Regions from separate parts of the Homo sapiens genome. Here region 2 is linked to region 1. The links come from fine-mapping of genetic effects on gene expression. Tissue or cell type: fibroblasts. Region 1 holds a variant in brackets; the other region holds the start of a gene. All regions are shown on one strand. Distances are between the middles of the regions.

Region 1 (8,110 bases):
TTGCCTAAATTTGTACTTTGCCTTATGTTAATATTGGTACATATCAGCTCTTTTTGGTTCGCATTTGTCATAGCACCTCCACAATTTTACTTTCAACCTTTCTGTGTCCTTATGGGCAAAAAAAAAAGTGTGAGGGTTATTCCTCAAACACCTGAGGGCATCAATCCCAGTTGTGTACCCAGAGTGGGTGATTGACCACTACAAGCTGTACTTTTGCCAGGATTCCATTACTTCTGACCGTGTAAGCTCCCGCAGTAATGGAAGTGGCCATGTGGAAGCTGTGGGTCTCTGGAAATCAGTGTCTCCTCAGACCCTGTGTCCTGTGGCCCTCGAGACATCTGAGTATTTCCCTTTTGCACTATACAGTCTACTGAGTGATGGCTGCAGGTTTCTTTGTAGAAGGACTAGGGGAAACATTACAGTGTATCCTTGCTACCATGTTTCAGGGTCCTTCCTCACAGGGATGCAATTCCTTTGGTCAGGGGGTCCTGGATCTGAAATTGGCTCAGTTCTGGGAACTGATCAAGGAATCATGATTTTCTATAGAGCAGCCACCTGTAGCCTCCTGTTTTCCCACTCTTGCCCTTTTCTGTGGTCATAGAGGTTGAGCAGCACACTTGTCATTTGCCCCTAAGGATGCTATGCTCCACTAACCATCTCCACAATCCGCTGAGAGTCAGGCCTCCTTGGCTGCCCCTTGGCTTTTTGGTTATTATGGTAATTGTGGTACCCGGGCTTCTGGTCATTGAGCTTTACCACTTGGACCCTATTATTTAGGATCCTATCATCCCAGTGGATTTTAATGAGCCCAGCTCTGCAACCTCTTCCTACAGAGAAGAGCTCCAACTGCACTGTTCAGTGATGCTGATACCCCTCTTCCTGATGCATTCTTTATGGCCTCTGGGTGGGGCCTCTGGGAACTTCCATGGATAATCCTTTGCTCAGTTTTTCTGGACTCACACAATGCATGCTGGTGTGCCTACTTCTCTCAGCTTCCACATTCCTTCCTCTTCCATCTGCCAGGGCAACCCCAGCACACCTACTCCTCTTTAAATTGGCTATCACTCAGAAGAGACCTATAAGAGAAGAGCCTCTTCCTGAATCGCTCCACTACATGGTAGCTAATTCTTGCATCACCTTCCATATATGATCTCTTACCCCTTTTCAGGCCTAGCACTTCCCTAGCTGGGTCTTCCAGGGATGTCTCCTTAATTGTTGTCCTATTGTCCTGCAGCCAAGAGAAGAGCTGGTAGCTTCTGAGGGGGCGGGCCATTTGTTGCAAGGTGTGATGGTGTTCACACCAGGACATTTTTACTAAAGATATCACCTGAGCTAACCTGATAAAATGTGCTGGTGTGGATGCCGTCACAGCTGGTGTGGACACCAGGATATTTTATCAGATTAGCTCTAGTGATGTCTTCAGCAATCACATAGCCACCGTGTGCCAGAGACTGCCCATGCCCCACATTCCCACACAGGACAGGGGGCCGGTAAGAGAACCTGTCCCAGAACTCCATCTCAGTCCCGGTTCTCGCAGACTACTTGTGCTCCTGCTGTTAGTTCAGGTTCTACAAAAAGCAAGTGCCAAGATTGGATTTATTTGGAAAAACAGGAAGGGAGCCAGAGGAAGCTGGGACAGCTGTTAGACCTGATGCAGGTCCAACCTCCATGGAGGAGAGGGAAGGAAGGAAGGCTGGGTGAGAAAAGTCTTGGACTGCAGTGCAATTATAAGAAAGTTTTGTCGAAGCCAATGGGGAGTCCTTGAGCCAAAGTCCCCTTTAGAGGAGTCTTGTGTCTGTAGGATTGCACTTGTATCAGTATTCTTGCAGCTCACTCACTACCCTGAAACAAACCTAGACCTCCGTGCAAATGAAGTGATTGGTTTCAGAGCATGGCAGCCAAGGCCCTTGGCCAACTTTTTTTTCCTGCAATTGGAAATGTGGAAGATCTGAAAGGTGTGTACCTTTCAGATGGTACACATCTGATGCTATGGAAATGATACATTTCATTTCGTTTAATTTTAATGTCTACCTTTAAATTAACAATATTTATTTAACATCTTTGTCCCTTTTCCAGATAATATAACACGTTCAAATTACCTAATTTTTATTGCCACCATTCTACAAATTGTTGACCAATAATTTAGGTCTGTCTGTTTTATTTTTGTGAAAGATGGGAGATCGGATGTCTATGTTTATGTTCATTTTTTCTTAGAATGGACATCAAATTTTCCAACACCGTTTGTTGAAAAAACTATTCTTTCTCCATTGAGTTGCCTTTGTTCCTTTGTCAAAAAATAGTTGACTATATTTGTTTTGTGGGGGGTGTGGGTTTGGCCTGGCAATAAATATTTTAATTTTTCTTGTTTCATTTTTTATTATGACCAATAATTTTCAAGTTTATTTCCTTGTTTGTTTAAATACAAATCTAAACCACAAGCAGGTACAACCAAGACATTTTATCTCATATTTACACTCCTGTCAGATCCTCTTCCAATTTGATGACCACTGACCAGGCTAGCAGGGGATGGGAGAACATTTTCTTAGGTAGCAGTGTTGTGAGGCCTGTGGTGGGGGTGGGGGAAATCAAGGACAAGGACAGGCTCTCATACCTGTTTCCACATTTACCTGGGACCAGGATGGGCAGGAGACACCAGGTCATGGCTCCTGAGCACCAGCTTCCTGGTTTGAAGAGGCAGAGAGTGAGAACTGGACCTGCATGGGGAGAGAGGAGAGAGCCACCTACTCCTCCTGCAGTTGGCTATATTTTTATGAGTCTACTGGGCACTCTGTTCTACAGTTTCATTGATCTGTCTGTCTGTTCTTTTGCCAGTACCATGCTGTCTTGATTACTATAGCTTTATAGTAACTCTTGAAGTCAGATAGTATCAGTCCTCCAACATCATTTTGCAGTATGGTGTTGGCTATTCCAGATCTTTTGCTTTTCCATATAAATTTTAGAATCAATTGTTGATATCTACAAAATAACTCATTAGGAAAGTGATTGGGATTGAAATGAGTCAATAAATCAAGTTGGGAAGAACTGACGTCTTGACTACTGAGTCTACCTATTCATGAACATGGAGTATCTCTTTATTTAGTTCTTCTTTCCAAAAATTGATTTCTTTCATCTGAGTTTTGTGGTTTTCCTCATATAGATCTTGTACACATTTTGTTAGGTTTATACCTTAGTATTTTATTTTTTGGTGATACTGTAAGTTATATAATTTTTATTTCAAGTTTTAATTATTCAGTGCTGGTATATGGGAAAGCAGTTGAGTTTTGTATATTGACTTGTGTCCTGCAACCTTGCTATATTTGTGTATTAGCTCCGGGAGTTATTTTGTAGATTCCTTGGCATTTTCTACATAGACGTATTAGTCTTCAAATAGGGACAGTTGTATTTCTTTCTTTCCAATGTGTATATCTTTTATTTCCTTTTTTGTCTTATTGCAATAAATATAAGACAAATATACGCTGACTATAATGGTCTGATTCCTAATTTTAGGAACTTTTCTTAGTTACTTGATCTTTGGGATCAGCATGGGTCTCAGCTTACATTGTCCCTCAAGGCCAGTCAGTACCTGAAAATGTGTCACTTAGATTTTCAAACTTCTCTTCCACCTTTTGTATGAACTAATACTTGTTCTTGGGTTGAATTACCTTTTTTTCTAAGAGCAGTTGGCTGCTCTGAGGTCACAATTACCCTGAAGGTGTAAGTACCACAGTTCTTCATTTCAAGATAAAAGAAATGCCAGTTTATCCTCTTACCATTCTGAATTCCTCTGATTTTTTCATTGCCTGCAACAAACTGAGTGTTGGCATAAAAATATCTTTGTGCTTTTTAGAAGACATGGAGGATCCCTCAAAGGCTTTTTTAATAATAAGTGAAAGGGGATTTATTCTTCCTTATTGGAGTAATAAAATTTGTTACACTTTATGTAAGTTCCTATGGAGGGTGGGGGAAGGAGGTGGAAATGAAGACGATGATTTAGGATTCCAAAAATTAAAGTTACTTGTGGAAGGCTTTAACTGAAAATAGATCTTCCTCTTGAGATTTTAGTTTGTTCTGAAGAATAATATTACAAAATCCAACA[C/T]TGCACAATAAAAAACGCAAAAGCAATGGAAGATTTATGATGATGTTCCTTTGCAGTTCGTTTAAACTGGTATGCTCTCTTGGCCTCGTCTGTCATACTGAGAGGCTTTATGATCTTGGTTCTGCCTATATGGATTAAATTAAGTTATACATGTGCAATTCTCATTCTGCCTGTAAAGTCTCATTTGGTACTCAGCCTTTTTTGCTGTACTCCCAAAGGACAATGATATTGGGAGAAGAAAGTAGAGGAAAACATCACAGAAGAACCAGAGAGAAAGGCAGAGACCCCCAGGGTGTATTTAGATTGGGCCAGAACTGAATTGCTGACTCGCCAAAAGGCCAGTCCAATCATAGATGTGTGCATAAGAAAAGACCTCACGAGTCCCTTCATGTCTACCCTTCAACATAAACATCACAGTGTCTCAAAATAGCCAGAACTGCTGCATTGACAGTTGAGATAGGGAGGGAGGACATTGGTCCCAAGGCTGGTTGGCATTCACAATAGAGGGAGAGGAAATTAATAAATGATCTGTTCCTGTCTACACAAAGCTTGGACACCCCAACAGAACATAAAAACAACTCAGATCTGAATCGTGATGTTAGTTTTACTGATAACTACAGGTATGTTTGTGGTGGGAGGAAAGGGAGGTTGAATTAAACAAATTTATTTCTTTCAGCATGTCTCTTTGCTTAACTGTTGATTCTGATACGTCTGTTAAACAGGTGGCAGGAAGCTCTGTGTCTGTGTATACATACATAGGTGTACATGAGCAACATGTCATGAAATATGAAATAGAGTCATATGAAAGAGTCAAAACTAAAGGATATAATTTCTGATTGTCCATCTTTTATGTGATTCCAGGGAAAAAGATTATATTTTTATTTCCATATAAATAAAATGAGAAATTCTCTTGGCAGTAGCTACTGCAGACTTTCTTCTGAGCCAAGTGAGATAGACTCTATAGATAAGTAAGGAGAAATGGGTAAGGGTGATCAAGTCACTGTGGCACTGGCTTGCTGTACTCTTGGAAACCAGACATATTGACATCAGTTTTAATTTATATAAATGCCATGAGTTATCTCATAATTATGTGGGGATATGGGAATGAGGGAAAGGAATTGCTTTCCTTAACTTCTCTGTATGAAGAATAGATTCCTTGTCTTATCACACTCCAAATACACCAGGATGGCTAAAGAAGGCTCTTTTATTTCTGGCTGCCACACTGATAACAGAACCTTCACTCGTAGACCTTACTGTGGACCTGGCATCCCCATAAGGATGCTCACAGGTGTCTGATTGGGTAGGAAGTACTGTCATTCTTTTATAAATGGGGAACAAAGCTCAAAAAAGTTATGTCGACAAAGCTCCACCACTCTGGGTTAGAGACAGAACTAAATCTTAGTTATCCATATTCAAAGTCCACAGAAGACATGGCTTGAGGTTAATAGACTGCTTCTAATACGTAGTCAAAAAATTTGCCTCCAGAAATGTCTAGGCCCCTTGTTCAGGAGACAGTCATTCTTTAAGTAAACATTCTTCAAACAACTCCTGTGTGCCAAGCATTGTTCAGGTGCCTGAGAATAAAGCCATGAACATAAATGCTAAAAATTCCTTAAAGAGGTTAAATCCTAGTGGAGGGAGAGCCATAGTTATCACACATAGAAAATATCTTGTGTTTCTGATGGCGGTCAGTGCTGTAGAGAAAAGGAAGGAATATTCAGGGGTGGCTGTTGTGGAAGGTTGGGCCAAGTGTTCAGCTTTTACTTTGGCTTCTCATGAGGATCTCACTAAGCAAGGATTTGAATGAGGTGAGAGAGAGAGAGAGAGAGAGAGAGAGAGAGCCGTGAGACACTTGGGTGAAGAGCATTCCAGGCAGATGAAAAACAAGTATGGCATCAAAACGTCATGCTCTGTGAGGCCAGAATGACAGAAGCGAAAACTCGGTAGGTAAAGATGGGATATTACTGCTCTAGTTGGAATGGGAAGCCTCTCTGGCATCAGCTAGCCAAAAGTAAAGTAAAAACACTTATGATTCTGAAAGTCAGCTCATCTTTAGCTTACTCCCCCCACCCCAGTTGCTTTTGTGGATCCATTCTTTTTTTCTATACTCAGAATCATTTCCGGAGCTACCTGCCACACATCAAAAGGTGCTCTCTTAGGTTGTTTAGATATGCTTCTGGTTGTCGTAGAATAAACATGAGACAGTGCTTATCATTTTCTGAACAGGATCATGAAAGGGTTTACCCTGATCAGGAAAGGGTTTCTCCTTCTTGAAGCATATATTTGGTAAGCAGAGAAACTGTTGAGAAGGAGATCCAAGATTGAGAGCATATGGTAATGTCTGCCAGCACGTGAACCTGAGGGAGAACGTGGTGAATGGCTTTGTTCTGTACCTTGACTCTTTGATTTGTTGACCCATTAGGAATGTTTTTCAAGAAAGTCATCAACCAGAGCTTACACTTTTCTTTGTCTTCACTCTGCCATGAGTAGTGCCTGGCATATAGTTACTACCTGCTCCCTGATGAATAAGGGCAAAGCTGTAGTGCCCTCTTCTAAGACTACAACAGAGTAAACACCACTAAAATTACTGGACTTTAATTCAAGATTTTAAATAATACTTGAACGAGAGTAAATCCTGCTCATAGATGGGAAATAACTATTGGTAATACCACAGTATGCTATTTAAATAGTGTTTCATTTGCAGAGAATATGCTTCTCCAAAGAGATCATAACTTGTGGCAAGAAAATGCTATTTTAGGATAATTACTAGCACCTCTTTTGGTTGTAATAAAAACCAAATTTTGAGTCATTCTTTATGTGCACAATTCCCAGACAGAGAATTGCCTTAAAAACAGATGAGAAGTTGAAAAGAATATAAAATAGTTCTCGGTTTGTGGTATGGCCTCTTTTCAAGTAAAAAAAATCAAAGCTGTCTATTTTTATTATCTGTGGAACATAAGTCATCGTCAAAAACAATATCCAGTAGAAGTCTTTAAAGCAATATTCTACCCTCTTAAAAATATTTCTAGAATGCCATTTTAAAAGATGTGTATAGCTATTACTTTGTGGTACCAATGTTGTGTGTATATGCACTTGTGATTTTTAAAAATATTACTCTATTATGGAAAAGTTAAAATATGTGCAAAGGTGAACAGAATAGTACAGTGACCCTCCATTTTATCCATCACTCAACTTCAACAACTATCAATTTGTAGTCAATTTGGTTTCCTCTATAACCCTACCCGCTTGCCTCCTCCCATATTGTTTTTGAAGGAAATCCCCAACAGATATAATTTCATCCATATATATTTTAGTATGTTTCTCTAAAAGATACCCTTTTATTTTATTTATTTATTTTTAAGATGCAGTCTTGCTCTGTCACCCAGGATGGAGTACAATGGCATGATCTTGGCTCACTGCATCCTCCGCCTCCCGGGTTCAAGCAATTCTCCTCCTGCCTCAGCCTCCCAGGTAGCTGGGATTACAGGTGCGCACCACCATGCCCGGCTAATTTTTATATTTTTAGTAGAGATGGGGTTTCACTATCTTGGCCAGGCTGGTCTTGAACTCCTGACCTCTGGTGATCCACCCGCCTTGGCCTCCCGAAGTGCTTGGGATCGCAAGCGTGAGCTACCGTGCCAGGCCCAAGATACCCTTGTTAAAAGAAAGCATATTCACCACCAGTTTCACTCCTAAAAAATGATTAGGCCCTAATATCACCAAATACCAAGTCATTGTTCAAAAATTCAATTAGTTCATGTATGTTACAACTGATTTTATATATATATATATATATATGGTTTTTTTTTTGTTTTTGTTTTTGTTTTTTTGAGACAGAGTCTCGCCTGTCTCCCAGGCTGGAGTGCAGTAGTGCTATCTCGGCTCACTGCAAGCTCCGCCTCCTGGGTTCACGCCATTCTCCTGCCTCAGCCTCCTGAGTAGCTTGGACTACAGGCGCCCGCCACCGCGCCCAGCTAATTTTTTGTGTTTTTAGTAGAGACGGGGTTTCACCGT
Region 2 (8,110 bases), 190 kb after region 1:
GCTGCTGCTTTTCTGATTTTGCCAGGTAGCACCAATTCTGGAGGCCAAAATAGAAACAAACCCTTCTGGATGGTGTGCCTTTACTAAGACTCTAGAGTTGGCTCTCCAAAGGGAAGAGGGCACTTCAAGTTGGAGGGAGATTTTTTAGCCATTTGGCGACCGGAGTCTTCCTCATGGTCAGGGGGAGGTATCAAATCACTTTTTCAGAGTTTGCATGCTGCCCTCTCCTGGCCTGTATAGACAGGAGTGTTACAGTACATCAAATGCATTTATTTTCCCCCCACACCTGTGTGGGATATACCTAAGAACACAAGAGAGTTTATTTAAAATATTCAGGATGTCTCATCAAAAATGTATACTTGAAGCTAATCAAAAATCTATATCTGAAGGTAATTAGAGGAAATACATTCATTTTCATTTTCCTTTGGCTCCAGGATTTATACTGAAGCATGTCAATCTTTATATCATGTCACTTTATACCCTTGTGCTTCCACCCGCTCACGTTCCATCCCCTTAACATCCATGTGGCTCTGGGACTCTGTTCTACAAATCAGTGCGCCAACACCGTCTGGGTCCCATCAATGTGCTGGCCACTTAAAGACATCTTTCCAACTGGAAGTGGTGGTGATGGGAAATCTGCTCAAGTCATTGGTCAGTGTTGAGTCTGAGGACCACATTTTAGCCTGACATGTGATCAAAATTAATTCTAGACATTATTAGGCCTATTATACCTAATATTATTAGAAACAAAAGAACTATCAAGAAGCAGCTAATCCAAGAAGAAGATGGCACCATAGGTCTAATTTTTAATTGAACACCTTGTCCTTCAAAACAATGTCTTGTGTGACCCATTTAAGCCGAGTGCTGGGCACGTTTTCCCTGGTTGAAATAATTCTTTTTTGTCCGTAGATATTTGAAGGACCCTGATACTGAGAACATGCCTGCAACCTGGCACGTTGCACAGGGGCAATTGCTGTAGCAACACTGAAGTACAAAAGTGGCTGAACTAATCTGTTGAGTGCCTGTGCCTCTGCAGTCTCTCAGTGTCTGCCCTTGACCCAGACAGGCCAATCCTCTCCATATCAATAAGAACTGAGAGTCTAATACCATTCCTTTGCATTAGAAAAAGAGATGTTTACTTTAAAGAGATTTAAAGGCATGTACCTTGTTTAAACTTTACCAAACTTATAACTCGAGGGTATGTAAAGCTCTGGCTGGCTCTACTAAGATTCATAGAGAATGAACTGTTGATTACCTCTCTCGGTGAAGAATGATAGCAAAAAACAATGAATAATCACAGCATTGTTTATATTTATCTTTGAAAAGCCATCAGTGTCTCCTAGTCTATACAAAGTGAATATAATCCGTCTCACACTCACAAAGTTGCTACCAACACACCCAACATTGCTTTAGAGTTAGAAAGATAAGACAGAAATAGGTCCCAACTTATTGCAGCTATTTTATTTATAAAAGATTGACAAATGCTCACAATCATACAAAACAACTCTTTACCAATAGAATGTAGTTGGGTCGATTAACTTATATTTATTTGCACAGATCAGTTCTTTACAGTTTCTTTCTGATGTAAAAGGAAAAAAAATTTATCTATAAAGTTAAAATGCCTTCTCCCAAATATAATATTCACTTGCCATGTCTATACTTTGACACGATTTCAAAAAGCACCCAGTTAAATCATTCAGATCAGTCGATGGGCAAAAACTATGAAGTTTTCCTGACTCTATGGTAGAGCTAAGCATGCATTTCCTTTAATGACAGAAAGAACATGTTCATCTGATAAGAAACAAAAAACAAACAAACAAAAAAAGGTCGATATAAATTCTCCACTGTGATATACAACACAAATACCTTTCTTATAACTTTCTTATCTTCCTTGGTCGGGCACATGTCTTGGGACAAAGGCTACCTTGAAAGCTAAGCACGGCTGAATGGTGAGTCGATTGCGAATTATCAGTGAATGGTTTGGATATGATCGACTAAGACTCCACTGGGAAGAGTGCTGTTTAGACGAAAGGTAAGGTATTTGATTGCCCCTGCACCTGCTGCAGAGCCATTCTCTGGCTGTACTGGAGTCCCAATCTGTTCCACTGCAGAAAAAGCGCTTTTCATAGGGATTCAGAGCCACATGAATACCAGCCAGCCCTTGAAGACTGCAAAGCAAGACCAATTTTTTAACTGACTTCTTGCAGTCCCCTCTGGCTTTTCCCAGGAAAGACTGAACTCATTAAGCAATGCTAATTTAATCACAAGTCATCAAGGGGTGGGGAGTTATATAACTATCTTTAAAATTTCAAATCAAACATGATAAAATCTCAGGAAATAGATTTTTTTAACAAAACCCACACCTCAAAATAAAAAAAAAAAAGAAATAGAAGTTTATGAGTTTTAGGATCAAATAAAATAAAATCAAACATCAATATTTTCTTACAACTATCACATCTACTAGATAGTTCCAATTCATGACTTTTTAATGTAGTAATATGTGAGATCCTGGAACTGAACGTGCCTGGCGTGCAGAATACAAATGCATTTTTAAACTCGTAAGACAATGTAGAAATAAGTCAGGTACACAGGAAGGATCACTGACAATCACGTTAAAAAATAACTACCTCCCTTCTCTCTTCTCCTTCAACCACAGCGTAGTGATAATAGTGATATTTCCCTCATGAGGCGGGTGCACCTTGGCCATATGCTTTAAAAAATCAAAACTCTGCCGAAGTCCGCTGTGGTTCCTATTCCTGTAGGGAGGATATTAACCTGGTAGGTAGGTGGGAGAGGTTCGTAGCCCGCTTTCTAACAATTGGATGGTGTTTGCCTCGCTATAGTCATGATTAGAATGGCGGTCACCAAGAGGTATTTATTGGTGGGATGACAACATATTGGTATTGACGTTATTTAAAAGAGAAAGAAAGAGCGATCACGGTCAAGTTTGAAGGTCCTTATGTTACACCCACGCATAATTCAATAGGTGAATAAACCTTGTGGCCCCCAGACACACGCCAACAGCTTGAATTACCCGGGGTGAAACCGGCGAGACGTCCACTCAGGGCTTTCGGTCCTGACCAGCCACGGAACAAACAACGTCAATTCATTCTAAGTGCCTGGTGAAGGTAGAAATCAGAAACCGTGTCTGTGTCACGTTAGTCGTGACAAGCTGCGTACCTGCAATGACGTGATGGAAGCCTCCTCCTCGGGTCCCTTCTCTCTCTCTCTCTCCCTCTCCCTCTGCCTTCTCTGAGTTCTCTAGTCCACAGCGGGGTCTAAGTTTGGTCTCCCGCCGCCGCTTTCAGTTCGACCGCAGCCAGACTGCAGCAGACGCCCATAAGAGAAGCGCGCCGGCTGAGGGTGCAGGAGAGGCGAGAGCGCGCCCCGCGCCGCGCGGTCCCAGGCTGGCTGCTCCTGCAGATGTGAAAGGAGCCCGGAGACTTAGCTCTGAATCCTCTCGGCGCTGCATGGGGATATTATCAGAGTCTGGGATTTCTATTGGCTCTGAACACCAAACAAATCACACCAGCCACCCCCCTTCTCTGTTTCACTCAGCGCTTGTTTCTCATCTAACCCACAAACATTGCAGCCACACCACACACTTCAGTCGCTTGCAATGTTTCTCTTTTCCTCCTTCCAGTCAGTGGATTTACAACCCTGTGGTCAGCTCTAACATTTTTTTTAGCAGACTTCCAATTCTAACCTTCTTGTTTATGTAGAGAAATTCTCCCTCCATCCCCTAAACCAGAAAAAAACAAAAAACAAAAAAAAAACACTCATTCCCTTCAGATCTTCTTCCTTTTGCTGATGGGTTTCCAATGTGAAGAATGTAGAAAGCCTGTGTGTGATATGTCTGACATTCTCATACACGTGCGCTTACACACACACACACACACACACACACACACACACCAGGCTCCTTTTGTTTGCAGTAACTGAGGCCAGTGAAATAAAAAGCAAGCTGAGCCTAATAACCTAAGTGAGAGCTTAACTAATAAAATCTTGAATGAATTCAGTGCAAAACACCCATTGCTTGAATTTGTTTTCTGTTCCAAATAGTACTTTGGTCATTATTATCCTGATTTTTGTTTATTGAATGCAGAGGTTTCTAATGCAAATCAGACTCTTCAACATCCAGAGAACATAAAACAATGACGCCAGACCAATTCTTGTGCTCCATCGGCTTGGTGCGTTATACCAGAAGCGTATTGTGACGCCTAAGTGCTTGCTCTTTTCATTATTTTTTGAACTTCTCACCACTGATCATCTCAGGACTGAGACTCCCTTAGTGTGATTCACCAGCCAAAGACGACTATTCAGACTCTGCTGATAGAGGTTCCTGGATGAAAATTTTTTATCTGTATGTGTCAATAGAGATAAACCTTTGGCCCCTTGGCAGGGAAAGGGCCCAAGAAAAATCTGAGATCTTACAAACTTGGCTGGGGAAATTCAGAATAAAATAAAGTTTCAGTGTGTCTTATAAAACAGACCCTCCCTTAGACTTTTCCCCAAAATCAATTTCACTGGTGCTTATGGAAATTTTAATGACAGTTATTCTTGACAAGAAGCCATTGCTTCTGAAATCTCTGAGCTCTGTTTTGATTTTTGACTTGAATTTTTTTTTTGCAGTGTTATCCCTTTTGTATGCTATTTGGTATTTGATATTCTAGTTCCAACTCAACTCACAGCACATTGGGTTGCAAATTCACAGGAAATAACAATTAGTTCTTGAAATATACTATCACCAAACAGACTACCTGCCTTCTTTCTTACGTGGGCACATTACAGGAATTGTGAAATGCAGCCTTATTCTCAGAATGGGCCTGCCTGAAATCAGCTGAAATTGACAAAGGAAATACAAAACAAAACCACGTTTAGCAGTTGGTTCCTGCTAACCACAGTCTAACCTCAAATGGCATATCCTTATTGCTTCAACAACTCCAGTTCATTCCCTTTCTTTAGGTAGGCAGCTAAAAACAAAATACTGTCATAAATCTTTGAAAGTGTAGAATGTATTTCTTCTAAAGATCTCAACAGTCTTCGAAAAAAAAAGGAGTTATAGGTATGATATTCCAGATTTTCCAGGTGGAGAAACAGAGTGGAGGAATGATAAAGTGACTTGCTGAAGGCAGACAGCAAATAGAGCTGGGAGAGTGGATGACTGCCCTGTTTGTTCATACAAACTGTTTGACTCAAAGGAAAGCAAAGGGTTAACACAGCTGACTCTCATTCCTGCCTGCCTTTGCACAGAAGAGCTAACAATTCATGAAATCATCTGTCCAACTTGGTAAATAGTCATTTATGTTATTTCAGAACGGGTCATGTTATTTTCAGATAAGTTACCAATAATTTGCCTTCGAATTGCCTTTCTAGAAAAGAGAGAAACAGTTACTGAGAAAACCAAGTAGATCATTGTATTTTGTGCTTGTTATTTTCAGGGCTCATTATAGCTCTTCATAGCACTGAAAAGACAGTGTAAGTGAAATCATGGGTGACTTAAAGTCACAGATCTATCTTAAACTTCATTTTAGATAATAATTCAAGCCCTCTGTCCTTCAGTTAATGAAGAGCAAAACTGGATGATTTAAAGGACATCTATACCCCATCAGTTGTGTGGTTAAGGGAAAATAAATCGTCAGTGTTTATTATTCTATATTTAGTCTTTTCGTCATTTTGCTACCTTTAAAAGAGTTTTTCAAAGACATTTCTTAAATCCTTTATAAATGACACAGACATCCGTAATAATAAAAACGCTTGCATCTCAGCATGCACAGCAGCGGACAGCCGGGCAGATTCATGACAGAACAATCATTTTATTTTCCACTTATTCAGCCACATCAGGATCATCCTGCTTAGTTCAGTGTGGCACTTTTTACAGGAGATATTCACAAATTGGCATGTATCCAAAGGAGTTGATAAGATGATGATTCTGAATATTATAATTTATAAGAGATGCAAGAGAGAATCAGGCATCTTGGAGTAGGAACTGAGGTGAAAATGATAACATTTTCAAACAGTAAAGGTAAAAGAGGAAATATGTTTATTATTCAGATAATGCTTCAAATGTATTGTCATTTTTATAAACATTTTCTTTCTTGATTTTTTTAAACAACTCTATGAGGAATGTAAGATAAATGCTACTAGGCTAATTTTAGAGATTAAAAGAGTTTGTATAGTAAAGTCACCCTGATGTAGTCACAGTTACGATGCCAGAGGATGGGAATAAGTTGAAGTGGACCCGAAACCCAGTGCTGTTCTGGAGAGAAAATAAGGGTAGGCAAAAATCAGGATAGCAAAAGACTTCTCAAAATTAAAGCTTTCGGAAATTGAAAGAATTTCCTGGCAAAGTGATGATTTGGAGATTTTGATATAGGTCAATGAAGTGGTCAAGAAAAGTACTCACAGTCATTTGCAGAGATTATGAAGGGATTGTTATAAAGGTCAGACTAAGTAACCTAGGGTTTACTTCAGCTCGAAATCATCTTTGATGCTATTATTGGCTTTTACTATATTACAGAATAATTTACAATTTTATTGAATAATTTTCATAGTATGCCATTAAATTTTTTAAAAGATTATGATTACGATCTAAGTATATTTCTGAACTATAGATGACCGCAGATGGTCTTTTACCCTTCTTTTGACATATCTGTGTGTTCTATGATGAATATGTATAATTTGTAATAAGAAAAAAAGTAAAAAAAAAAAAAAAAAGAAAAAGTAGAAGAGCTTATAATTCTTCCTCTACTATACAAAGATACAAGATTTCCATATGACTAGTTTGCCGAAGACTGACATTGCATTCCCAGTGTGATAAGCGTAAGATCACATTCTTGATCTTGTCTGTACCTATTCATGTGTTTTCTTTCTAGCCTAGGTTGGACGCCATTCTAATGCTAATGTTTTCCCCTTGGTTATCTCTTTATTTATCTTAATAGCTTCCCTTTAACTTATGGATTTATTGATAAATCCGTACGTGCTTGTTTTGTCCTTTTATAGCTATAATTATTTCTTAGATTATCATAGTTTACTTTTTAAATTGTTAAAGTGTTTTTGATGCACAAAGTTTGTAAATTCTTCAATTTACTGATTATTCAATATTTATTCCTCCACCATATAAGAAACCTTTATTTTCTAGAAAGTCATTAACTTTGTTTATTAATACTGTATGTTTACATCAAAACCTCAAAATGAAATCTATATTTATGATTCACTGATACATATGAATCTATGCTCTTGCGGTTCACAAATTTCAACTGTTCACATGTATTAAATAACATTTATCTCTCTTGTGTCATGGTGATTCTACCCAGAATATATGAGTGATTTATAAGAGTTTTATAGCAAAATATATAGCTCTCACTGTGTCGCAGAATAAACTCCTTGTCTATGAGAGTGCCATCTGTCATGTTTGTGTCACCCCAGTGGAGCAGAGAACACAACCCACAGATGAGCTGGGGAAATTAATAGGAAAGGGAATGACCATGTATTCAGCTCAATCCCTATATTTTCCCTTAAGACCCAGGGAGCAGGTGGTTGTGGGTTTTTTGATTCATTAGCCCATGCTTATTAGATGTCAGCAAGGCCTCTGCGCCGTACTCTTACTTCTGAGATGTGGATGGGTAGAGGTGAAGAGGGCAAAATGAGAGTGAAGAGAAGGCAGAGCCACCTTTGACCTGCATGTGCTTATGACATCATATAAGCGGTGAACGCAGGAGATGGTTAAACTAAGATTCAGATTGACAAATGTAGCTGAAGGAGTGGCCAGAATGGCTCCATCATGGCACCTGCCACTTCCTTAACTCTTTCCCAGACCCGATAGCCCAGGTGAAGAAGGAGACCTAGATAGTAGTATAGATAGCTGTAGAAGTATCACATTCATCTGCCCCTACAGCTACAGACACCAGACTAGGAGAGCATGCTGGACTCAAAGGGAGCCAATCTGCCACCCATGCAGAGATAATGGGAGGTGGCTGTCCATCAGATTTCTCCTTTTGATGAGCTTGAACTAGGGTTATCTCTCTATCATCCATCTATCTATCTATCTATCTATCTATCTATCTATCTATCTATCTCTCTCTCTATCTGTAGCTAACTTTGTCATTTG

Which allele goes with the higher level. Alleles are on the strand shown, and positions count from the first base shown. SD is a standard deviation of normalised expression in the study named.
With allele C in place of T in region 1, the expression in fibroblasts of the gene that starts at base 3,452 in region 2 is lower (moderate effect, 0.44 SD a copy in GTEx).

Evidence for each region. PIP is the estimated chance that this variant, and not a neighbour inherited with it, causes the effect.
Region 2: it holds the start of GREM2, and the variant in region 1 is fine-mapped to the expression of GREM2 in fibroblasts (GTEx, PIP above 0.99). The same link has a PIP of 0.9 or more in tibial artery.

Annotation. Positions count from the first base shown.
Region 1 is chr1:240,419,299-240,427,408 of GRCh38, forward strand. The region is part of intron 15 of FMN2 (formin 2); the gene reads left to right. Among named protein-coding and RNA genes, the nearest start is that of GREM2, 190 kb to the right of the region's middle. The variant C/T (reference allele first, on the strand shown) is at 4,097.
Region 2 is chr1:240,608,704-240,616,813 of GRCh38, forward strand. GREM2 (gremlin 2, DAN family BMP antagonist) reads right to left here and starts at 3,452. Exons shown (of 2, transcript NM_022469.4): 1 at 3,181-3,452.